Homo sapiens: one gene and its partners. The protein of the gene in region 4 interacts with the protein of the main gene of each other region in a pairwise test. Each region holds a gene or a part of one and is shown on either strand. Other genes may lie near its edges. The genes, in order: SLC38A7, CD302, TMBIM6 and OPRM1.

Region 1 (3,198 bases), on a different chromosome or scaffold from region 4:
ACTTGTCTCGCACTTCTGACCTCAGGTGATCTGCCCACCCTGTTCTCCCAAAGTGCTGGGATTACAGACGTGAGCCACTACACCTGGCCTTTGCTGGTTTTCTTGCCAGCACTGAGCGTGGTGACTGGTGGCTCCATAACCAAGACAGCTGGGACCTGCTCAACGCTCGCCTCTGAAAAGATGGGGGTGGATACTCAGGAGTTTAAAGCTCTTGCCAAGATCTGAAGTCAGGGGGACAGTCTGAGACCACAAAGGCACAGGAAAGACAGTGAGGGCTTAAGTGAAGGCAGAGGTCGCAGGATTGGAGACTGCGATACATTCCTAAGTCACTGGAGAAGGATAGGTAGAATGTGGAAGAAAGCAGGGGTGGCAAGAGCCACTTGCAGGTCCCTGCTTGGTAGAGGGAGCATGGCGGTGCCATTCCGGAGATAGGGGTCAGAGACAGTGACATGCCATCTACACCTCCTACCCCAGCCCTTCTTCCTCCTGGCAGTGGCCTGGACTCTGTCCCCAGGATCAGACACAGGGGACACGGCTCAGCAGCACAAATCCCTTTTATTAACCATCTTCCCTTTCTCGAGTATACACAAGTAGAAAAGAAACAGTGAAGTACCCCGATAGGGAGGGTGGGGAGAGGATGGGAGGGGGCTCCTGAGGTTAGGACAAGAGGCCAGATTCCAGCTCCTTCTCCTGACTGGTCTGTCTCTGTGCAATGACTCCACTTACATCCCTTGACCCCCGAAACACGGCACTGGGGGACTGCAGCCCTGCTGACCAGGCTGTCCTCCTAGCCCTGTCAGGGACTGGTGCTGGCAGAGCTTGGTGCTGTGCCACAGACTGACAGAAAACAGCACAGTGGGTCTGGCCCCGGGGGCAGAGAAGATCAGGCACCAAGAGGGGATGTGAGAAAAGGCAGTTTATCCATCTGGGGACTGGACAGAGGCCCAGCCAGCCTCCAACCAGCTTCTGCTTCTTAGATCGGACTGCCCTGAGTGGCGGGCGGCTCGGCAGGGGGTCCCTCTCGTACCCTTTACAGAGGTTTTGGGGAAGAGGGGACAAGGAAATGCTAGGGGCTCCAGGTGGAGGAGGAAGTCTGATTGGTGCCTGGGATTGGCCAAAGTGAGAGGGGGCAGCTGAGGGGCTGAGGTGGTCAAAACGGGAATATAGTGGGGAGTAGGGTGGGAGGTGGGGAGATAGCCTATCTCTTCGCCCTCTCTGGGGTAACAATTCCAGTGTGACATCAATGTGGCTGGCCACTGAGGCCAGGCCTGATGGACGTGCGTTGCTGAGGAGGCTGGTAAGAGAGCCCCCACTGTCCCCAATTATGTGCGTGGGAGAGACTGAGCTACACAGTGAAGTGAGATGGGAGGTGAAGAGGTAACGGGGTGAGGGGGAAGGAAGGAGCAGACAAAATCCAGACTGGAAGGGAAACTTCCAGGCCAGTGTGGCAGGCTCAAATGCTGCCCATCAGTGACAACCCAGCTGCCTTTTTGTTTGTTTCTGTTTTTTTGAGATGAAGTTTCACTCTTGTTGCCCAAGCTGGAGTGCAATGGCACGATCTCAGCTCATTGCAGTCTCTGCCTCCTGGGTTTAAGCGGCTCTGCTGCCTCAGCCTCCCAAGTAGCTGGGATTACAGGTGCCCGCCACCATGCCCGGTTAATTTTTTGTATTTTTAGTAGAGATGGGGTTTTGCCGTGTTGGCCAGGCTGGTCTCGAACTCCTGACCTCAAGTCATCTGCCCGCCTTGGCCTCCCAAAGTGCTGGGATTACAGGCGTGAGCCACTGCGCCCAGCCCTGCCTTTTTTTTTTTTTTTTTTTTTTGTCTCTGGGTAGTCACGCTAGGGCTGGCAGGGGAGGAGGCAGAGGAAAGGCAGGAAGAAGAGAAAACATCACTGAAAAAGAAGGTGTCGGGGAGGTACACCCTGATTCTGACCAGCCCAGCCCACACAGAGGGTCTGAAAGGTTCTCAGCCTTCTCCATCACCCACCCTGCGGCCTCTGAAAAGAGGGGCCCATCTCAGACACAAAAGCAGATACTCCCAACCTTATGGGGAAAGCTAACGGAGGAATACTCACAGCACCGTGGCACGGGACGGCCCTTGGCTTCAGAGCCGGGCTGGCACCGTTTGTAAACATTAGACCTGGTGATGTCTGGGGATGGAGGAGGAGAGGGATGCCCAGCCTGGACCATCAGGTTTGATGAAAGAGACAGGGTGGGGCCCCTCAAGGCCTGGGAAATGTCTATTAGCTATGGGAAAGAGGCTGACAGGTTCATGGTGGGGGTTGCCCAGGAAGGTGTGGACAAGGTCTGAATCTACCTGACTATGCATTTGCATGACTTCAGTGCTACCGTTGGAAGTGGCCAGGCTCCTGAGGAAGCTACCACTGGCCTGGGGTAATGAGCACAACCCCTACTCAGGACAGGGTGCTCTGTGGAGGATGGTGGCCTTCTGTCCATAGTCATTCTCCAGAGGGAAGTCAGACTGGATTCTTTCTTATGAGATCTACCGACTCTCTTCACCCGTGGATTCCAGGCATGGAGAAGTTGAGAACTGGGAGAGGAGGAGGGGTCCTCTATGATGTGAGACTTCCTGCCGCCATCCACGGCACTGCCAGGACTGGGGAGCAGGAAGGGGACTGGATTTGAGCTGTCCAGAGGTGTGGGGCCTGAGTTTGCCCCAGTCCCTGGAAGAGGATGTCCGGATGTCATCCCACCAGTTGGAATGATCGTGGACTAAGAATGGCCCCATAGCTCTAAGAGATGGGTTCCTGCGACCAATGGCAAAGGCCTTGTGTTCCCTGGGAGGCAGTGGTTATGCCAAGAGATCCACAAAGATGGCGTTGGCTGTGGTCTGGCCGAAGATGAAGGCTCCCAGGGTGACCAAGAGGACTCCGTAGCTGACCAGCACCCACCAGCTGTAGAACAGAGGGTGAGAGAGGTCTGATCAGTCATCCCATCCCATGACTGCAGACTTCAATATATATAACTGTTAATTACTGTAATTATCGCACTTCTCCTGTTGGTAGAGCACTTCCTACTTCCCAAAGACTTCAATACAAAGGTAGTGTGGGGCCAGGTGTATTGTCCCTAGTCCATAGGTAAGAAGACCAAGATCTAATGGGAGTAACTGATTGTTCACATCATGCCACGATTCGAATGTAGGCATCCTGATGGAAAGATGTTCAGAAAAAAGCACGT
Region 2 (7,513 bases), on a different chromosome or scaffold from region 4:
TTGGGAATCCGAGGTGGGTGGATCACCTGAGGTCAGGAGTTTGAGACCAGCCTGGCCAAATGGTGAAACCCCATCTCTACTAAAAATACAAAAAAAAAAAAAAAAAAAAAAAAAAATTAGCCCGGTGTGGTGGTGCATGCTTGTAATCCCAGCTACTTGGGAAGCTGAGGCGGGAGACTCTCTTGAACCCAGGAGGCAGAGGCTGCAGTGAGCTGAGATCGTACCATTGCATTCCAGCCTGGGTGACAGAGCAAGACTCTGTCTCAAAAAAAAAAAAAAAAAAAAAAAAAAAATTGAAAGGGAAATTAGGAGATGAGGAACATGAGATTTCGAGAAGTATGATGGAGACAGAAAGGAAAGGGGCTGGGCCATAGCCAGAGGGGAAAGAAGGGTTGAAAAAGGGTTTTTTTCTAAAGGGGAGAGAAAGAGGTTCACAAGTTTAGAAGCTGAGATGAAAAAAACAAAAACAAAAACAAAAATAATGGACAGAGAGAAGTTGATGATGCAGTGGGGAGAGGGAATCATTAATGGAAGATCTTGGAGAAGATAAAATGAGAGGGGCAGTCCTAAGCAGAAAGAGGAACTGGTTTGGGTGGGCTGGAGAAGCATGCCTTCCTCTCTGAGACCACAAGAGAAGAACTGCAGATAAGCATTTGAAGATGTTTGTCTATATGTAATGGCACCTGTTTTCTTGTGTACTAGAAGGCAAGGTCTGCTGAGAAAGATGGGTAGCAGATGGGGTCTTTTAAAAAGTTTTTTAATTTTTTAGAGACAGGGTCTGTCTCAGTTGCCCAGGCTGGAATGCAGTGGTGCAACTCTAGCTCACTGCAGTCTCGACCTCCAACATTAACTTTTTTTTTTCCCTAGAGACAGGTGATTTCAATGTTACCTAGGCTGCTCTCAAACTCCTGGGCTCAAGTGATCCTCCCACTTCAGCCTCCCAAGTGTTGGGATTACAGGTGTGAGCCACCATACCCAGCCTGGGATCTTAGCTTGAAAAGAGTAATAAATTTGAAAGACTCAATGAGAGAAATAGGAGAGGACAGTGACTAAGGTAAAATCAAATACAAGGATTGCAGAAGAGGCATAGAAGGCCCAGATGAAATTAAAAGCCATATTGTTTATAGTGACAGCCATCGGGAGAACTGATTGATTTCCTCCACCTGTCCTCAGTTAACTTCAGTAAAGTTGAGGAAAAAGAGAGCACGGGCCAGGCGAGGTGGCTCATGCCTGTAATCCCAGCACTTTGGGAGGCCAAGGCGGGCAGATCACTTGAGGTCAGGAGTTCAAGACCAGCCTGGCCAACATGGTGAAACCCCACCTCTACTAAAAATAGAAAAAACTTAGCCAGGTGTGGTGATACACGCCTGTAATCCTAGCTACTCGGGAGGCTGAGGCAGGAGAATTGCTTGAACCTATAAAGTGGAGGTTGAGGTGAGCTGAGATAGCGCGACTGCACTCCAGCCTGGGGGACAGAGTGAGACTCCGTCTAAAAAAAAAAAAAAGCATGAAGAAGAAAGCGGAGACCACAGATTCCGAGTTGGCCAGGTGAGCACACCAGGGGAACAAGGGGACAGAGGATGTGGTATTTCGGCTGGGTGGAGAAGGGAGAAATAAAAGGCTGAGAAAAATGCAGGCAAGGGACTGAAGTCTGGCATGAGCCAAAAGAGGATGTAAGTTGGAGACAGAGTGAAGGAAAATTAAGGGTATGAGGTGTAACTGGAGAGTAAATGGGAGAGCGAAATATAACAGTACCCACATACAGGCAATAAGTAGTCTATTTCATCAGATTAGCATCAAAAATGAGGCAGTGTGCACCAGAGTTAACAATAAAATAATATAATTTTCTTTAGTACAAATGACTTAAAATGACAGTGTTAAAATGGGTTTTGCCTTAATTAGATTGATTCATTAGGATGTCAATTCTATTGTAAATATAAAAATATTTGAAAAGTAGCTTAACACAAAACCACATTGATAAAATATACTTTGGTGCCTGAGGTGGGGGTGGAAGAGATAACTTTCACAATTACATGATTGCTTAGAACTGTTCATTTTACTTCTGTAGTTAGGAGGGCAAAAGGGTCCAGAATCAAGATGTGTCAATATTCCAATATAGAGTATCTTTGGAAGGATTTGCTCTGGTCTGGAGTTTGGTATATAATAAACTCAGTATTGGCAGCCTGAGAAGAAAAATGGAAGTAAATAAGTTAAGCAAGACCTTAATACTTTGGCAAAGGGGCAGAACCTGGAATAGGTGGGAGAGTCCAGCAGAGGAGCTGGGCTCTGGTTCATTTGTTGGCATTCTCTGTGAGCCCACGGGGGAATCACATCCCTTCTTTGGGTCACTCAATTTCCTTACTAGTACCACTTCTAACACTCTATGACTCTCCTTATAGACCCCTTGGGTCAAATTTCCTTGGTGTAACCACTCTGGATTATCAGAAGTGTGGAAAGGGTTAGAAAGAGTTGGAAAGGGTCAGATTTTATTTTTTTAAAAATAGACTAATTTTTGAGCAGTTTTAGATGTATACAAAAAATGTAGCAGAAGGTACAGAGCTCCCATGTACCTCCTTACACATACCCCAGTTTCCCCAATTATTAACATCTTGCATTAGCAGGTACATTTGTTACAGTGGATGAGCCAATATTGACACATTATTAACTAAAGTCCATTGTCCACACTAGGGTTCATCTTCGTTTTGTGCATTCTATGGGTTTTGACACATGTATAGTGATACACATCTACCATTACAGTATCCTACAGAATAATTTCATGGCTCTAAAAATCCTCTGTGTTCCATCTATTCATCCCCTCCTTCTTCCCACCCCAACCCCTGGCAACCATTTATCTTTTTACTGTCTCCATAGTTTTGCCTTGTCTAAAATGTCATATAGTTGGAATCATATAGTATGCAGTCTTTTCAGATTGGCTTCTTTCTCTTAGCAATACATATTTAAAGTTCTTCCATGTCTTTTTGTGGCTTGATAGCTCATTTAATTTTGGTACTGAGTAACATTTCATTGTTTGGATGTGCCATTGTTTATCCATTCACTTATTGAAGGACATCTTGTTTGCCTCTAGGTTCTGGCAATTATGAATAAAGCTGCTATCAACATTCATGTGCAGGTTTTTGTGTGTATGTAAGTTTTTAACTCATTTGGATAAATACCAAGGAGTTGTGATTGCTAGATGGTATGGTAAGAGTACGTTTAGTTTTGGAAGAAGCTTCCAAATTGTCTTCCAAAGTGGCTGTACCATTTTGCATTTGCACCAGCATTGAATGAGAGTTCTTTTTGCTCCACATCTTTGCCAGCATGTGGTCTTGTCAGTGTTTTTGGATTCTGGTATCTAATAGGTATGTAGTGGTATTTCATTTTTGTTTTCATATACAATTCAGCAATGACATATGATGTTGAGCATCTTTTCATCTATTTGCCATTATATAACTTCTTTGATGACGTGTGTATTCAGATCATCTGACCATTTTTTTTAACTGGGTCATTTGTTTTCACGTTGTTGAGTTTAGACTTGATTTTATAGAACTCTTTTGCCAATGACATGAGGCTTAAACAAGCACCCTTGCTTGACCCTGGCTAGTGTTGTCCAGAGGCCCTCATGGGTGAAGTATAATTGCACAGTTTATGCATACATTGTAGCAAACATAGCTTAAAGACTCTTCATCCAGGAGCTGGTAACAGAGAAAAGTTGTCTAAGAGACATAGTCCACTGAAAGGGGTCTTTGAAAAGGAGGATTCTGGCCAGTAGATCCAAAGAAGAAGGCTGGCAAACGCCACCTTAACCAACTGATCCAAGTTAACATCAGTGATGAGACATCGACATCTTGTCCTTCTCGAGCACGTACATCACTTCTGGGGAACTCTTTCCCAAAAAAGCGCAACCTGAATCCAATTAGAAGGAAATGTCAGACAAAATGAAACTGAGGGACATTCTACAAAACGACTGGCCAGTACTTTTTAAATGTGGTTTGATCGTGAAAGAAAAAGAATGACAGAGAACCGTCCTAGATTAAAGGGAGACTAAGGAGACACGACATGCAATGTATGATCCTGGATTGAATCTTGGAACAGAAAAGGACCCTTAGAGGGGCAATTAATGAAATGTGGTAAGTGCTGTAGATTAGCTAATCGCATTATCCCAGTGCGAGTGCCCTGTGTTTGATCACTGCACTGGCGTTATATACAATGTCAATATTTAGAGAAGCTGGCTGAAGGGTTACGGAAATCTCTTGTGCTGTTTTTGCAACATTTTCGAAAGTCCTAAATTATTTCAATTCAAATGAAAAGTTTAAAAAACAAAAATTAGAAGTTCCAGAAGGCCGCGCGCCAGCCGCTCCTGCGGGACGGGACACCCGGGTTCTCCTGGTGGGAGCCCCCAGTGCCGTTCACGTTCCGCCCGGGGGGGGGATTAAACTCGCACGCGAGAAGCACCGCCCCCGCTCCCGCCCCGCCCCGCTCCTCTCCGGCCGCGCAGCCGCTGCCGCCCACCCGCACCCGCCGTCATGCTCCGGGCCGCGCTGCCCGCGCTCCTGCTGCCGTTGCTGGGCCTCGCCGCTGCTGCCGTCGCGGGTAAGCCCTTACGTAGTCCCTCGCCGGGACCGTGCGCGACCGCCTTCGCCCCCTTCCCAACGCACGCTCTTCGTCCCCGCGCACCCGAGGGCGGCCCGCAGACGCAACACCCGGCCGGCCATCCCGCCCTTCCCTGCACGCCCGTCCCCCGTGGGTCCTGGCTCCGGGTCACCTCTCACCCGCCTGCCCTCGGGGAGGGGAGGTGGCCGAGAATAAGGGAGGGCTCTGTCTTCCTCGGAGTCCACATCCTCACCGCAGACCCCACTCCGCGGGGAGGGAACCCCCAAATTAGGCCAGTTGGCCGGAGAACTGAGGGACTTGGAGTCGCACGACGGGCGCCGTTTCAGGGCAATTTCGGGCTGAAATGAGAAGCGGGGACGTTGGTGGCGATTTCCCCTGCTGGTGCGCGGCCGGAGTGGGGTTGCTGGGATGGGGGTGGGGGCCGGAGGAAGTAGGCCCTCTTTTGCAAGCAGCGCTGTTTGTCTAGTTGGTTGGTGTTCAAGTTGTTTAAACAGGAAAACAGTTCAGCCAAATAACCCCTGGATGGAAGAGGAACGGGAATAGGCAAAGCTTGGATTTCACTGAAATCAAGGAGTTTTAAAGTTCTAGTCTGCTGTTGTGCAAGTGACATCTGAAAAATCACACACGTGATCATTCATTTACAAAACGACTCGTGAGGAAAATGCACAATTCTATTGACCGTGGTCTTTATTTTTAAAAAATTTCCATACAAGCATGTCAAAAATATGTGGATGGGGAGACTCTGGAGAACACAGACTTCCAAAAACACCACTGACTGAATAATTCCAGGAATTAAAGAGCAAAATAAACAAGAACTAAATGAGTACTTGTGTGGGCTTAAATAAAGTGCAAGAGATTTAAATAAAATGCAAGAGATTCCCCCCCCCCACCCCTTGCCCCAGATTTCACTGCGTTTTTATAATAACTGCCTGCTCGAAGTCTACTGACAGGAATATTTCAGTGGACCTCAGTGTTGGAGGCAGCAGCAGCTCAGAACTTGGATACAAACCCAAGGTTCCTTTCTTGAAAACTTCTGTGGACCTGCATTTATGACTGGTTGTGACATCTGCTGCCTATCAAAGGGGCAGAAACAAGATGTGCCCATGTTCACATTGTTCAGACTGGGAACATTAATTTTGTCTAAGACAAAGCTGGGCTGTCTCTGAACCCTCCTTCTGCACACCCTCATTTTGCGAGCCAGTAACATCTCAACTCTCATGTAAACCACCCTCTGCGAGGCTGTGCATTTGTACTTTAGGCTAGTCGAATTTTCTTGTCAGATTTTTCTTTCTTGTCAGACTTTTAAAGAAAATCAGTTTCTAGATTTTGGTATGTCTCTTCTTCAGTGAAGCTGTTTTGACCAGCAATAGAGGGCAAATTTCCCTTTGGAAATTTTTGTGCATTTCCTTTGATAAGTCCAGTGTGGATCAATAGGCTTTTCAAGAGCTTTAGAAAAGTGCATGATGAATAAATTAATGTTAATTAATCAGCTCCTCCCAGTCAGGAAGCTTTAAGGATTAATTTGGAAATGAGTGTGAGCTTTGACCTAGCTAGTTAACCAACTTATCTGCACTTCAGTAAAACAGAGATAATACTTACTCATGGGGCTATTGGGAGCATTAAGTGGGAACTCCACGTCTAGTCCCTATTACAGGCGTGGTTCATCTTGGTTTCCTTCCCTTTATTCTCTTCATACAAAATGAAGGGTAATTGTTGCAACCAGAAAACGTATGAATACCACCTTATGTATATTGGATGTTTATGGTTACTGAACACATTCATATGTATGCTAATGTTATAGGGCTGAAAAACTAAGTGTGTTTTTCATAATACTTTACAAATCTCCCATCCAAGCAAGATCAGGGGTCATATTTGGCTTAGAACTAAGTCAAGAAAGAGTTTGTTGCTGAATACCAAGATCTTAATAGAAAAGCTCTTATGATGTTGCATAATAAATATGGGTATTGCATATAAATGTGATGTTGAAACGGAAATCATTGTTATTGTCTGTCATTCTGGAGGTTATTAGTGAAGTGATCTTAACCTTGTTCTTAGCTATTATTTTGAAAATCACAGTGGACAAAACATTCTTTAAATTCCTGAGTGAAAATCCATGGCATCGCTTTAAAAAGTTTTTCCGTAAGGGTGCTTAAGCACATAATAGATGATCAGTATGTATTTATTTGGTCAGTGGTTTCCTATGCCTGGCATGAGCTGAGTGAACAAGCATGTTCCGAGTAAGTCCTCATTCTGTGATCATCATGTGGATCAGAATCTAGGGATTTTGAATTGCCATGTCCTACAAGCCTTAGATGAGGTGCCTCTGCCTTCTTCCCTGATGTCATCTCTTACCACCCTTCCTGCCATTCACTCTGTGTATCCACAGAGTAAACAGTATCTGGGTACTCCAACACCTCTGGTCCTTCTGTGCACACCACCTTCCCCCAGTCCTTGGCATGGCTGCCCCCACCTCCACCATTCAGATCTCTGTTCATATGTCACCTTCTCCGAAGCCTCCCTGAACACCCACATTCTCTGTCACATGTCCATGTTTTATCTTTTCCAAGCCTTTCTGAATGCATTGTGTTTATTCATCTGTCTTGCTTGTTGCTTCTCTTACCAGGGGAAAGAAGCTCCATAACAGAGATTTTACCATCTTGTGGATTTTTGTTTTGTTTTGATTTGTGTCTCTGCACTTTATTCTAAGTTATAATAAAAGGATGAAAAAATTTAGGTGAGTTATTTAAAAAGTAGGTAGGATAAGTGGATTGCAATTTTTTTCAAATTATATTACCTCTGCTATGCACTCATTTCATAATGAATTCAAAGCCTTAAATCATCTTAATCTATTGCTGCCACCTTTTCTTTCTTTCTTTTTTTTTTTTTCCGAGATGGAGTCTCA
Region 3 (7,036 bases), on a different chromosome or scaffold from region 4:
CAAAGGAGTTAGGGGTAAGGAAGGAGTACTAGTGAGAATTCTGGCTAAAAAGGAGCCCCCATTCCCTGTTTCCCAGTTCACACTTACCTCCCAGAAAGAGGTAGCTACGGCGCCTGGCATAGAGTGCACTGAGGGTGAAGCAGGTAAAGATCATTGCCGTGCCCATGAAAGCAGTGGGAAGGATGCTGTTAGAAAAAAAGACCATTAGATTAAGGGCTACAGGTATACGGTCTACATTTAGAAGGTATATTCATAAAGATAAAAGCACATAAGACACTACCAAAAGAGTTACCTGGGGTTGACAGCAATACAAAACTCCAGGGCAGGGCCCAGGCCAACTCCTAGAAAACAGAAAACCCAGAACACAGTATTACGATCAATTCTTGAATAGGATCCTCATCCAAAAGCTGATCCCGAAATATAGGCATACTCATGCTCTTAACAAACGTGGACTAAAGAATTAAATCTCTCTCCCCTCCGCTGTAATTGTTTTCAATAAAATGTATACCTGACTGCGTTGTTTTTTTTTTTTTTATAGAAATAGCTGCAAAATTGTCCTCTTAGCTGAAAATCATGGATGACCTCAGGGAGGGTACAGAGATTACAAGAAAATAAAGTAGGCATGCCAAACATTTCAGAGCTAGAGTGATGTAAGATGGTAATATAGGCCAGATCAGGAATTAGAAAAAAAGGATAAAGAGCAAAACAGTGCCTCGTGGCCAGCAACCTTATAGTCATGTAGGACTGACTCCCCTTTGTAGCAAAGAAAGGTGAGACTGGTTCTGCAGGTGGACACCTGCCAACAGGAGGGCAACCTGTTCCAGCTCTAACATTTCTTTCGTTCTAATTACTTTCCTCTTTCCTTCTGATAATTCCACCCCTTAATGCCTTCAAAAACTAGCTTGCCCTGATGCAAAAATTTTAATCCCTAAATCTCTTCCTTTCTAAAATTTCTCCTACGTATATTAGACTGTCACTCAGAACAAGCTGTTCTAATTCAAATGTTTTGCAAACATTTTTATTACATAGCTTGAGTCTTGTTTCCTTTATGACAATTCTAGAAGAGCTGTGCCTTTCTTTTTTTGAGAATCAGCAAAGTGTCCTGCACAATAGATCTCAATGTATAGCTTTAATGCACTGTCTGTAAGACTCAGAACAGAAGCTCCTATGATAATTGCCAGTATGGGTGCAACTATGTCGGATTCTCAAGTCTAGTTTATTAAAAGTTCTATGCCTACTATTAATAGGTTATGCTACCTAAGCTCTTGAACCTCATTCATTCAAGTACACAATGGCTATTTTTGGACACAAAAGTAGAGTCACAGTGGCTACTCACAGAGTTTCCCCTAATGGATGGGGAAACAAAATGAACCTATATGAGATTAGAAAGCAGGCCAGGAAGGCCAGGCACAGTGGCTCACGTCTGTAATCCCAGCACTTTGGGAGGCTGAGGCAGGTAGATTACCTGAGGTCAGGAGTTCGAGACCAGTCTGACCAACATGGTGAAACCCCGTCTCTACTAAAATACAAAATTAGGGCCAGGGGCAGTGGCTCATGCCTGTAATCCCAGCACTTTGGGAGGCCGAGGTGGGCGGATCACGAGGTCAGGAGTTCGAGACCAGCCTGGCCAACATAGTGGCCCATCTCTACTAAAAATACAAAAGATTAGCTGGCGTGGTGGTTGATGCCTATAATCCCAGCTATTCGGGAGGCTGAGGCAGGAGAATCGCTTGAACCTGGGAGGTGGAGGCTGCAGTGAGCCAAGATCGTGCCACTGCACTCCAGCCTGGGCAACAAGAGTGAAACTCAGTCTCAAAAAAAAAAACAAAAAAACAAAAAAAAGCGCTGGGTGTGGTGGCTCATGCCTGTAATCCCAGCATTTTGGGAGGCTGAGGCGAGCAGATCACGAGGTCAGGAGATCAAGACCATCCTGGCCAACATGGTGAAACCCCGTCTCTACTAAAATACAAAAAATTAGCCGCTGTAGTCCCAGCTACTTGGGAGGCTGAGGAAGGGGAATCGCTTGAACCTGGGAGGCAGAGATTGCAATGAGCTGAGATCTCGCCACTGCACTCCAGCCTGGCCACAGGGTGAGACTCCATCTTAAAAAAAAAAAAAAAAAAAAAAGCCAGGAGGCAGGGTACTATGGCTCACGCCTGTCATCCTAACACTTTGGGAGGCTAAGGTGGGTGGATCACTAGGTCAAGAGATCAACACCATCCTGGCCAACATGGTAAAACCCCATCTCTACTAAAAATACAAAAATTAGCCGGGCATGGTGGCACATGCCTGTAATCCCAGCTATTTGGGAGGCTGAGGCAGGAGAATCGCTTGAACCCGGAAGGCAGAGTTTGCAGTGAGCCAAGATCACGCCACTGCACTCTCTAGCCTGGGTGACAGACGGAGACACTGTCTCAAAAAAAAAGGAAAAAAAGGGCCAGGCACGGTGGCTCATGCCTGTAATCCTAGCATTTTAGGAGGCCGAGACGGGCGGATCATGAGGTCAGGAGATCAAGACCATCCTGGCTAACACGATGAAACCCCGTCTCTACTAAAAATGCAAAATATTAGCCGGGTGTGGTGGCAGGTGCCTGTGGTCCCACCTACACGGGAGGCTAAAGCAGAAGAATGGTGTGAACCTGGGAGGCGGAGCTTGCAGTGAGCCAAGATCAAGCCACTGCACTCTGGCCTGGGCAACAGAGCGAGACTCTGTCTCAAAAAAAAAAAAAAGAAAAAAAAAGGGGGGGGAACTAATTAAGAGATACTGAAAATATAGCTCACCCCTCAAAATTAGACAAATCCCTTAACGTACCTGTAAGGAATGCAAATCCAGCAAGAAGTCCCAGTCTTTTCTGTTCAGTTTCATGGCTATGAGGTGTTGCCATCAGCCAAATCATCAATATCAGGGAGCCCAAGGCAGACAGCAGGCCAGCCTGTTAGAGTCAGAATCAATCAATCATTAAACACTTGAAAGTTTCAAATTTATTTTGCAAGAGACCTTTATTGGGTTCAAACACTCGTCTGAACTTCCTAACATTTGCTTATAACCTGGAGGCAGGAGAAAAAGTAGTGTTTTCTCAGGGATGGGGCTGAGGAGATAACCCAGAAGCCTTGAAGCACAGAGTTAGGACCATGGTGGATGCTGGAGGCTCTTCTGGCTTGCGTAGTCCTTCAACTACAGTACAACTACCCAAGTCAAACTATGAGTGAGTCTTGCCCAAAAAATAGAAAGGATGAATGAAACGTGACAAGTGCTTAAAGTACATTCCATCTGTAGAACAAATAGAAATGATCCCCCTTTGGTCACTTTAAAAAAAACATGGTGGCTCACGCCTGTAATCCCAGCACTTTGGGAGGCCGAGGTGGGCAAATCACCTGAGATCAGGAGTTCGAGACCAGCCTGACCAACATGGAGAAACCCCGTCTCTACTAAAAATACAAAATTAGCCAGGCATGGTGGCACACGCCTGTAATCCCAGCTACTCAGGAGGCTGAGGCAAGAGAATTGCTTGAACCCAGGGAGGCAGAGGTTGCAGTAAGCCAAGATCACGCCATTGCACTTCAGCCTGGGCAACAAGAGTGAAACTCCGTCTCAAAAAAACAAAAACCAACAAACAAAACCCCCAAACACCAAAACACCAAGACACATACATATACAGAAGACTGCAAAGTACTAAAATGTTAACAGTAGTTATTTCTGGATGATGGGATTATGGAAGTTTCTAAAATACTTCCTTCTCATTGCTAGTCTGTTTTCTGAATTTTCTAAAATGAACACATATTAGCTTTGTAGTAAGAAAAAAGTGTTTCTTTTTTTAAAAACGCCAAGTGGGAAAAACTATAGGCATTAGAAAAAAGAGAAATCATTAAGGATGGACGTAGACACTGAAGTTCCTTCCTTCCTTTAAAGGAAGAAGTTGATTCTCATTATTCAGTGTTTATGTTATAAAATCACAGTGGACAATGAATTAGTAAACCCTTGTTCCTGAGGGAAATAAAAGGTAGGTAGGTTCCTGCAAGCCTAAGGTCACAACATTTTCATCAAATGATCAATAGATACCTTGCTTTTATATGTGTTTCTGTTTAAGGACACCTCATTTGACATTATTTTTGATTCCTTAACATTGAACTCACAGTTACAACAGCAGTACAACTCATGCCGGAATGAAGCTTATCTAATATACACATTTTCTTCATAAGGCACATTACGGTCTTTCTGCACTCAGGAATACTAGACAGCACTTCAGCACTATGCTGTTTGCATTCTGAACAGCAAAATTAAGCCAAGCATGGTGGCATGTGCTTGTATTCCCAGCTACTTGGGAGGCTGAGGTGCGAGGATCAATTGAGCCCAGGAGTTTGAGACCAGTCAGGACGACACCACAAGACCTCCACTCAAAAAACCCAGCAAAATCACCAATTAAAAGCACAAAAATACAAAGGAAGTGGCACTAAATGACCATGAAAAGAACATTTGTTTACAATACGAGAACTGAAACAAGAAGGCAGAGCACTGTCTTGTTCAACCTCAGCTGAAAACACTGCAACAGCAGGGTGACTCAACTTTTTCACCACTCTGTGACTGTCTGCAAAAAGTGCCATGAGTAACAGAGCGAGACTCTGTCTCAAAAAAAAAAAAAAAAGTGCCATGAGTATTGATTTTGGGGTTACAAATTTTAATGAGTAGGTGAATTCACAAATATAGAGTCTGTGAATAACAAGGATTGACTGTATTTTACTAAATTATTTAAGGGCTAACCTTGCCTAAAACTCAAGCGATCAAAGCCCTATCCTTTGAGTGTCTAAAGTAATTTTTCACACAATCCCTGCCAGGAGATGCCTGAACATAAGGATAGTTCTCAACAGTGGCAAATGCCAACAGAGGCCCACCTCTACATTTATGCTAAAAGGAATACTCTACAAAGGCACAAGACTATGTTAGGGAGTCTTCAAACTTTCTGGTTATTCCTCAAACTGTACCTTCTACTCCTGCTGACCAAACCCAGATTCTCTCTCAATACAGGAAAACAAATTGTTGAAGGTTTTTACCCAACCATGCAGACAACAGTTATCGGAAAATAAAACAGGTCAATTCCTTAAAAAGATCTCAATCCTGCCTCTCCTGATAGTTAATCACACAATCAGAGTTTTGTAAAGGAAGAATGGAGGAAAAGATAAAAAAGCTTCTGTGCCAAAGAATCCCAGCATGCATGCCATGCGCCTACTCAGTGGGTGGGGGTCTTGTACGTCAGCAGCACACCATTCAGTGCCAAGGTTAAGGCATTCTGTTTTTCGGTATCTAGAGGGGGCACAGTTGCCAGAAAATTAAAATGGCTTTACATGTCCTGATTTAATGTCTGAGTTTAAATCCTAAACTACTGATAAAGATTAAAGAGAGGAACAGGGTCCCTTGGACCACCTTGCTGAGCTGGTTTTTTCCTAATGTAATTTGTACCACAGCAACCAGGAGAGAAAATCGTTCTTACCTGAATGAAATGAGTGACCATATGGACATAGGCCCCTGCAGCCGCCACAAACATACAAAGGGCAAAACTTGCATAGACCTTCTTCAGGTGCTGCTGCGTTGACGGGGTTCTAAGAAAAGAATGTGAATAAGAGCAATCAGTCCCAGATCAATCTCATATTTAAGCTAAGAAGAATCATTTCTCTCTTTCCCTTCCTGGGAATATGTAAAAGTTCTGTTACAAATAGTTTGAAATACTTTTAGGAAAGCATATTACAATAAAAAATAATATTTTGAAAATAGGTTAACAGAACCTTAAATGCTGAGGAAGACCAAATGCCCAAAATTATGAATAATCAGTACCCAAACTAGAATAAATGCCTTTCCAATAACCACACAGCAACGTGTAGAATTTGGACATTTTCATCAGGTCCTCTGGATTCTGGCCAAGTTAATTTGTTAGCTTATACACACAAAAGTTATAAATGCAGAAAAGGGACAAAGAGATATGAAAAGAAATGCAGTACAAAACCAGTCAAGGTCAAAACACTTACATATGAGAAAATTTTAAAAGCGCATCAAAGTTGATCTTTCGATCAAATATGTTCATGGTTCCAGAGTCCGTGCAGCAGTCTCCACTCTGCAGAATAAAGAAAGGTTAGAGTCATTAAGTCATACAGAATCACACGAACAGCTTATAAAAAAAAAAAAAAGCAACATGTAAGTTCAGAAAGATGAAAACTTGCCTAAAATTCTACAGCCCTAACACAACCATTTTTATTTTTATGTGTCCTACAATATATTTGCAATCATAGTCAACCATCTTAAAGACGACAGAGGAATTGAATGCATCTTCTTCTCCCTCAAACTATTTTGTTACTATCATCTGATTTCTATTCTTTCAGGTGATTTGCCACTTTAAAAGGCAGTAAGTTTATAAAAGAAATTCTCAATTAACAATCTAGTTAAAGGAACCTAGACATTGGCACATAAAGCAATTTTATGTCATTGTTTCAAGATGCTAAAGAATTCCCTTGGCTGGGCATAGTGGCTCACTGAGGCCTATAATCCCAGCACTTCTGAGAGGCTGAGGTGGGCGGATCACCTGAGGTCAGGAGTTCGAGACCAGCCTGGCCAACATGGTGAAACCCTGTCTCTACTAAAAATACAAAAATTAGCTGGGTGTGTTGGCACACACCTGTAATCCCAGCTACTCAGGAGCCTAAGACAGAAGAATTGCTTGAACCTGGGAGGCAGAGGCTGCAGTGAGCCAAGACACGCCACTGCACTCCAGCCTGGGCAACAGGGCAAGAGTCCATCTCAAAAAAAAAAAAAAAAAAAAAAATTATCTCACTAGCAGCACCTCAAAGATAAAAAACAAAACTTTGACTAGTCTTAACAAAACAAACAAAAACTATAAAGCTGGGTCTGGCATTAAGACTTGCATTTTAAATATATGCGTATCAAATTTTCTTAACCTAACACATTTAAGAACTGAACTGAAAAGGACTCACAATTTTAAAAAAAGAGAGGTTCCTACCTCCATAAAAAAGGAATTTATGCAGAAAGGAG
Region 4 (7,284 bases):
TGTACAGTTAAATATAGTGTATTATTTATAATAATTCTTCTTGCTAATTTCTAGGCCACATACAACAGGATATAAAAAGCCAAACAACAAAGGATAAATTCTTTCATATGTGTGTAATCCTATAAACCCTCTTTGAAGTTGATTCTCATATTTTTATTTTACAGAAAAGGAAACCAAATATCAGGAAGTATAAGTAATTTAGTAAGTCACAAGGAAGTAAATAGTTGAGACTGGATTTTGAACTGCTTTTTTTTTAATCAAAAGTCCGGGGCTTTCATCCACTTTATTCTAGATGGCTTTGTTTTAGGTTTATTGGGTAGAAGTTGGTGTGAGGAGTTTTTTGCTTTCATTTACTTATTTATTTTTTTACCATGCAAATAAAGAGTGCCTATTCCATTTTACTTGATATGTATGCAACAATCCAGTGATCAAGGATAATATTGTATCACAATGCATTTGCATTCTCATTAGCTATGCCCATTTAAAAGTTAGATAACATAGAAAATATCTATAAACAAATACATAAAATGTTCCTCCAATGAAACCTTGGATGTCCCATTTTTCTGAGCTTCAAACCACTGTAATTGTTTCCTGCATAGTATTTATGTTTGTGTTCCTCATTAATAGCCATTAATCATGTGTTCCATTAACAGCCACTCTCAACAGAATCAGGACTAAGCTATTAAAGTAAGTGTAGGATGAAGGCAATTCTATGAATAACTAAGCCAATAGATGTTGAAATTCAAAGAAGAGAAGTGACTTTTAGCACTTTCCTGGGATTCATCCGTGCTATGAATAAATACGTTGCTTTGAAACAAATAATTTTTGTGAAAAATGTTGCATGATATGGGTTTGATAGCAATGTTCAATCTAAATGTATAGATAATAAATTATTCTTGCTTCGAATAGAAAGCCTGGGCTAAGCAAGAAGCATCAACAAAAAGACAGATATTTCTATTGTACAAATTACATATTAAGGCTCAATGAAATAAAAGATATATTTGGGATCAATACTGTATGAAATAATTATGTTTGTAATAAATTGACTCATTTATTTGCAGTCCATCTCCTTTTATGAGAGACTTGAACTTTCACAACAGACTTCAGACCAATTGAGTAGGAAATGAACAATTATGGAGGAAACAGGGAATATACCATAGGGAAACTCTGAAATAACAAAAACTTGAAATTGAGGTGCTTTTATACTACATATTAAGTGGTATTAATTTATTATTTCTGGAACAGTTTTTCTCTAGGTTTCTCAAGACTGTCAATATATTTGAAAGAAAATTAAATTTGTTCTGCAGCTTCCTGAATTGTATATTAAATGGGTGGAAGATACCAAGATATAAATGTTAAACAACTTAAGGAAGGACATGCAATGATAACCAGAATATTCTATATTCAAAATAGAAGGATAATAACTATCCTCACTGAAAGATGATAAAGACCAATAGAAAACAAAAAAATCAATCTCAGCTGAGAATATGAAGCACAAAGTTCAAGTCCTGCTCTAGAGAGTAATTGCATTTTTCTATAAAACAGAATAAAAAAACAACTGTTTCTAGAAAAGGGCAATGGGAATGGGGTTGCTCTTTGCCTGTAATTCTAGAAGAAAAGGCATATGGCTAGTCCATAAGTCTATACATTTAAGTCCTGGTTGGTTGACAGACTATATTGAGTCAAAAAGGACAAAACGTCTTCATTAAGGTTTTCCCATAAAGATGTTTTATTTTCAAACTGTGTCATTAAAAAAATCACCCAGATTGTTTTATTTTTATTTTATATTATTTATCACCCAGATTGCATATATTTTATGCCATTATCTGGGTATAATGGCATAAAATATATGCTAATCATTTTTTCAACTGAATTCAAATATTATGCACATTAATATTCATATATGTTTAATATAGAAAGAAACACAGAGAGTGAGGGAGGGAGTCCACTATGTATTAAGTACTGTGTTAGTGAGCAGACCTCCCTTAGGAACCTTATTACGGAGTACAAAGCTAGGAGAGTAAATAAAGTATATTAAAAAATGCATACAAAAGATGACAGAATCACCATTCCAAAAGATCTTGGTGGATAAGAATCATGAATTGGATCTAACAAGATGTAACTTAAAAGTAAAAAAATCTATAGTGTTGTACTGAGCTCCCTCCAAAGCAACTATAAATTTATAGGAGATGAAACATATGATTCACCAGGCATAAGAAGAAAGTTTCCGTAATCAAACACTATTGTATCCATCTTTTTAAACTCCAGCTCCTATCACAGCACCTGGTCCAAAGCAGATCTTTAGTATTTGTGGAACTGGCTTGGATTGTGTTTAGGAAATTTTGTCATTGGTAAACCTAAGGAGAGTCAAGAGAACAACGTGACCAAAAAATAAAACTAAAAAAAAAAAAAAGGGACTTTCATTGTACTGGTAGAAAGACAAAGTTTATAATCTGGCTTAGTTTCTTTTTTTGTTGTTGTTTGTTTTTTGGTCAGGGCAAATTTAGGTCATTATTTTTAACACTGGAACTGTAGTTTCAGAGCAGATAGACAAACTATAATGAGAATAGATGAACAGCAAGGCCACTGAAAGGACTCAGAACTACATCTTATAAGAAACAACTGAATGATGCTAATGTTTAACTTGCAAAAGAGAAAACTCAGTTGATTTCAAATATATGAAATATAGTGGTAAGGAGTTATCACTTATTAAGCAATTACTATTGCAATGTATACTCATTTAATCCTGCTAACAGACATATGAGGTGAATATTATTAGCCTACCCTCGCCTTTTTTAAGTAATGAGAAGACTGTCATCCTGTAGGGTAAAGTAACATGTCCAAACTCATACAGCTACAAAGTTACAAAGCTGATTTATAAAATGATTGACTCCAAGGTCAGGAATTATTATACTGTGTCTTGTCTTCCACATGAACTAAGCACAAAGGAACTGAATGCAGGCAGACAGATTTCAGCTCAATATAAGAGAATTGTTACATTAGTTCATGGAAGAATATGTTTTAAGGTATTTTTGTTAGTCTCTAGGAAATCTCTGTAACATTTTATTGTGTAAATTATATGCTTTAATGTAAGAGGATAAAAATAATAGTGAACATTGGCAAAATAGCCTATGATTAATAGAGTTTACCTATGAGTTATCTGTTTCTAAGATAAATGCCAAAAAATAATATTGGAATTAAATGTTCCTTTCAAGATCTTCCCTCCCTGCTCCCTGAAATTGCAGTGAATTTTTCAAGACCAACTGAGGACATGTATTTTCAATGTTTATGGTTAAAAGATATGTACATGCACAGATATATACATGTACAGAAATGAGAATTACTTCAGAATTGGTGTTAACTTTAGAAAAAAAAAGACCAAGAACTTACTCTTGGTATTTACAAATTTATTTCTAAAATAGAAGCACTCATGGACTTAGAAGTAAGGTATAAAATTCAAAAACGTATCCATGTTTCTCAAGGATCTTGTTGTAGGCCACTCTAATTCCATATATTATGTGGCTTTTCCTAGAATTTTTACACTAGAAAACAGACTGAATGCAAATTTTGTTTTGTTTTAACAACCTTCTTCTCAGAAGCATATGTCTATCGAGGAAGTCTTCAGATAAAAAAGATAAACAATTCCAAACAGGTCTATGAGATTTAAGATGTGAAAGATCAACATTATCTTTAGTTGACTTTACTGGATGCCACAACCTTCTGATTTCTGTAACCACTTCTTATGCCTCCTACCCACTGAAACAAAATCAGAGGCAAACAGAGCTTCACCCTAGAAATTGGGGAAAATGAGGAACAGGTTTTCTGCACAAAAGTTTATTTGTTTCTCATTTCTTTTTCAGAAAATAAAGGATCGCTGTTGTTCCCAACAGGTTTGTAGGGAAGAAAATTGGAGAAACATTATTACCTTTTCTTAGATGTTGGCAACGGAGGCAACAAGGACTGCAAAAGAAAATTGTGTGTCCCCCATTCCTAAATAATCAAAATTGGCAGTAGGGATGGAAGAGCATTGGGGTTTTAGGGCTGTTAGGGTTTCATCAAGCCAATGTATTCCCTGCCAGATTTTAAGGAGAAAAAGGCGCTGGAAAATTGAGTGATGTTAGCCCCCTTTCTTATTTTTCACTGCTACCAAAGACTAACTCTATCTCTCTCCCCAACCCTTCTCTCCATCTCCCTCCTTTAGATGTGTTTGCACAGAAGAGTGCCCAGTGAAGAGACCTACTCCTTGGATCGCTTTGCGCAAAATCCACCCCTTTTCCCTCCTCCCTCCCTTCCAGCCTCCGAATCCCGCATGGCCCACGCTCCCCTCCTGCAGCGGTGCGGGGCAGGTGATGAGCCTCTGTGAACTACTAAGGTGGGAGGGGGCTATACGCAGAGGAGAATGTCAGATGCTCAGCTCGGTCCCCTCCGCCTGACGCTCCTCTCTGTCTCAGCCAGGACTGGTTTCTGTAAGAAACAGCAGGAGCTGTGGCAGCGGCGAAAGGAAGCGGCTGAGGCGCTTGGAACCCGAAAAGTCTCGGTGCTCCTGGCTACCTCGCACAGCGGTGCCCGCCCGGCCGTCAGTACCATGGACAGCAGCGCTGCCCCCACGAACGCCAGCAATTGCACTGATGCCTTGGCGTACTCAAGTTGCTCCCCAGCACCCAGCCCCGGTTCCTGGGTCAACTTGTCCCACTTAGATGGCAACCTGTCCGACCCATGCGGTCCGAACCGCACCGACCTGGGCGGGAGAGACAGCCTGTGCCCTCCGACCGGCAGTCCCTCCATGATCACGGCCATCACGATCATGGCCCTCTACTCCATCGTGTGCGTGGTGGGGCTCTTCGGAAACTTCCTGGTCATGTATGTGATTGTCAGGTAAGGAAAGCGCCAGGGCTCCGAGCGGAGGGTTCAGCGGCTTAAGGGGGTACAAAGAGACACCTAACTCCCAAGGCTCAATGTTGGGCGGGAGGATGAAAGAGGGGAGGTAAACTGGGGGGACTCTGGAGGAGACCACGGACAGTGATTGTTATTTCTATGAGAAAACCTACTTTTCTGTTTTTTCTTCAACTGATAAAGAAAGAATTCAAAATTTCAGGAGCAGAGAAGTTGCTTTGGTAAAAGCTACAAATGTCTAGGGGTGGGGGGCGGAGGGAAGCTATAGCATAGACTTGGAGCGCTTCCTTATACTGAGCAAAGAGGGCTCTTGGCAGAGTCCTACACTCAGTCCCTCTGCAGGAGCTATGGAAAGAGTAAGTTGTGAATAATGGGAGAGAAATTCTAGTTAGCTTTCCCAAATTTGGTTGGGGCCGGTGTGTGTGTGTGTGGCGGGGGGAGCAGTCTCAAGTCTTCTCAATTGTTTTGAGATGGACCTTGGCAACTTTCCTACTCCTGCTGGTTTAGTACTTCCCTGTACCACAACCCCACCCTTTCTTCTCCCCTGCCATAGCAGCCCTTACCCAACTCTTCCTTTCATCCTGAGGCAACACTAGGTAGAGGAAGTTTTCCTAGCATCTCTCCATGACAGTTTTCCTCTGTTATAACAAACATGACAAATGTGTTGCCTAGACCAGTTTGCCGTTAGTAGCTTCAGATCGCCTAAGTCACAAACTGCATCTGGAATGGGTAGGTTGGTTCAGGAGAACCGCAGGACATGGCTGTATTTCATTGCCTTCACAAGTTGGAGCTAATTAGGAGTGACCAAAAGCATCATAATTCCACATTAGAAACTGCAGAAACTCTTATACAGGAAGTTGTGATGGGTGCTCTAGACAAAGTGTTCTTATCAAGTAAAATTAATTCAAAAGAGTTGTAGTCCACTTTCTGTTTACCCAGATGTTCCCGGTATATTTGGCAGAGTGTGGAAGCTCTCAGTATTGACTGAGATTGATATTGATTGTGTTGGTGTTGATGTGTATATTCAAATACTACATGTGAATGTGAAATGCCATATATCTGTTTTTGTTAAAGAAGATAAATATTTTAACACTTTAAAATAGTTCCTAATTCGAGGGTTTTTTTTTTTAACCAGGGGTATGTGTATATAGGGAACATGGCATTTTCATATTTAGTTACAATGTTTGTTTCACCTATTCAGCAAGTATTGCAGGTTTCAGCGGAGCTCTTAAATCATTTAAGAATTGCTCTCTCCAGTATGCTTTCATTACCCAGGTGCTGCAAATTGCTTATAAGCAATTCTTTCTACTCATCTGTCTGATTTCTTTAATTAATGATTTTTAAAGAGTAAAGCTAATTTCCCTGATCTTTTGATGAGGAATAAGATAAGTATTGTCTGTAAGAAAAGAGCACCATCTATTGAGAGGAAGGCTAACAACAGAAGGAAAAATGCAAGAAGATCGATGGAAGTATTTATTTTTAAAAACATTTACTTTAAGTAATTCAATACAATGATTCACATTGAAGATTAAAAACCAAGTTTAATTTTGCAGTTATGACAATAAAAGTTATAATTAAAGGCCTGTTTTGTGAAGGGAAAATATGTTTCTCATTTTTTCTAAAAGAAATTCATAGAATCATAAACTAATCAAGCTAGAAGGGACTCTAGAGATTATCTATGCTAAGTAAATAAACTGAGGCACAGAAAATGTAAATTATTTTCTCTAAGAACAGATAGTTCATTAATTCAGTGCCACTAAATCTCTCCTAGCTAACATATTTTTTTTTTTTATTGTGCTGGCAAATCATGATTTGAGTTAATTCGACTATTAGGTTGACAGAGTGGGTTGATATAGCAATAATAACTTGGGAATAACAAATTATCCCCAAATTCTATGTGAAATCCTGAAGGAAAAAAGCATGAAACAAAAATACCAAAGCATCTAGGAATCCTGCCATCTGAAACATAATATTTTATTCCCTTTTATTGCTTCTTGATATTTTCCTTCCTCATTTTTCTACCCTTTAGTTTATGCTTTGCAATACAGAGAGAGCCAATAGAGTGGCAACTGGCTGTGAAATGAGCAGATTGGTCTTATTCCAGTGTAGAAGAGGTTGCTGGTTGGGTGAGTTAGTTTTAAAGGCATTACCTCTGGCCTCTTGTTGACTTGGAGAAACATGGTGACGGTGCATCTTACTGAGAACATGTTATTATGCTTTATTCTCGGTACTGAAAGTTCTTACAAAATGCAGTACTATTTGAAAGGTCATCCCAAACACCCACCTGTGGCAGGCTGGGTTTTAATCGCAGGGTTAGGTAACCCTCTTGGAATGTGACTGTGAAACAGAAAAATGGGCAAGTTAGTGACAGATGAAGCGACAGGGAAAGCA

What was found.
Region 1: the proteins of OPRM1 (region 4) and SLC38A7 interact in binary tests that used the Homo sapiens proteins (3 or more experiments, as listed by UniProt).
Region 2: the proteins of OPRM1 (region 4) and CD302 interact in binary tests that used the Homo sapiens proteins (3 or more experiments, as listed by UniProt).
Region 3: the proteins of OPRM1 (region 4) and TMBIM6 interact in binary tests that used the Homo sapiens proteins (3 or more experiments, as listed by UniProt).

The regions. Positions count from the first base shown.
Region 1 is NC_000016.10:58,664,573-58,667,770, forward strand, and holds the end of SLC38A7 (sodium-coupled neutral amino acid transporter 7), read right to left. Parts: intron 2,916-3,198; coding exon 2,813-2,915; coding exon of another isoform or gene 2,734-2,812; 3' UTR 537-2,733; downstream 1-536. UniProt on the Homo sapiens protein: Symporter that selectively cotransports sodium ions and amino acids, such as L-glutamine and L-asparagine from the lysosome into the cytoplasm and may participates in mTORC1 activation. The transport activity requires an acidic lysosomal lumen.
Region 2 is NC_000002.12:159,795,209-159,802,721, reverse strand, and holds the start of CD302 (CD302 antigen isoform 1 precursor), read left to right. Parts: upstream 1-4,513; 5' UTR 4,514-4,523; coding exon 4,524-4,590; intron 4,591-4,769; exon of another isoform or gene 4,770-7,513.
Region 3 is NC_000012.12:49,751,532-49,758,567, reverse strand, and holds part of TMBIM6 (bax inhibitor 1), read right to left. Parts: intron 6,105-7,036; coding exon of another isoform or gene 6,075-6,104; coding exon 6,019-6,074; intron 5,596-6,018; coding exon 5,487-5,595; intron 2,934-5,486; coding exon 2,813-2,933; intron 342-2,812; coding exon 293-341; intron 186-292; coding exon 88-185; intron 1-87. UniProt on the Homo sapiens protein: Endoplasmic reticulum (ER)-resident protein that confers cellular protection as an anti-apoptotic protein by limiting multiple stress-inducing pathways surrounding the endoplasmic reticulum and mitochondria.
Region 4 is NC_000006.12:154,034,960-154,042,243, forward strand, and holds the start of OPRM1 (mu-type opioid receptor), read left to right. Parts: upstream 1-4,346; 5' UTR 4,347-4,399; coding exon of another isoform or gene 4,400-4,585; coding exon 4,586-4,875; intron 4,876-7,284. UniProt on the Homo sapiens protein: Receptor for endogenous opioids such as beta-endorphin and endomorphin. Receptor for natural and synthetic opioids including morphine, heroin, DAMGO, fentanyl, etorphine, buprenorphin and methadone.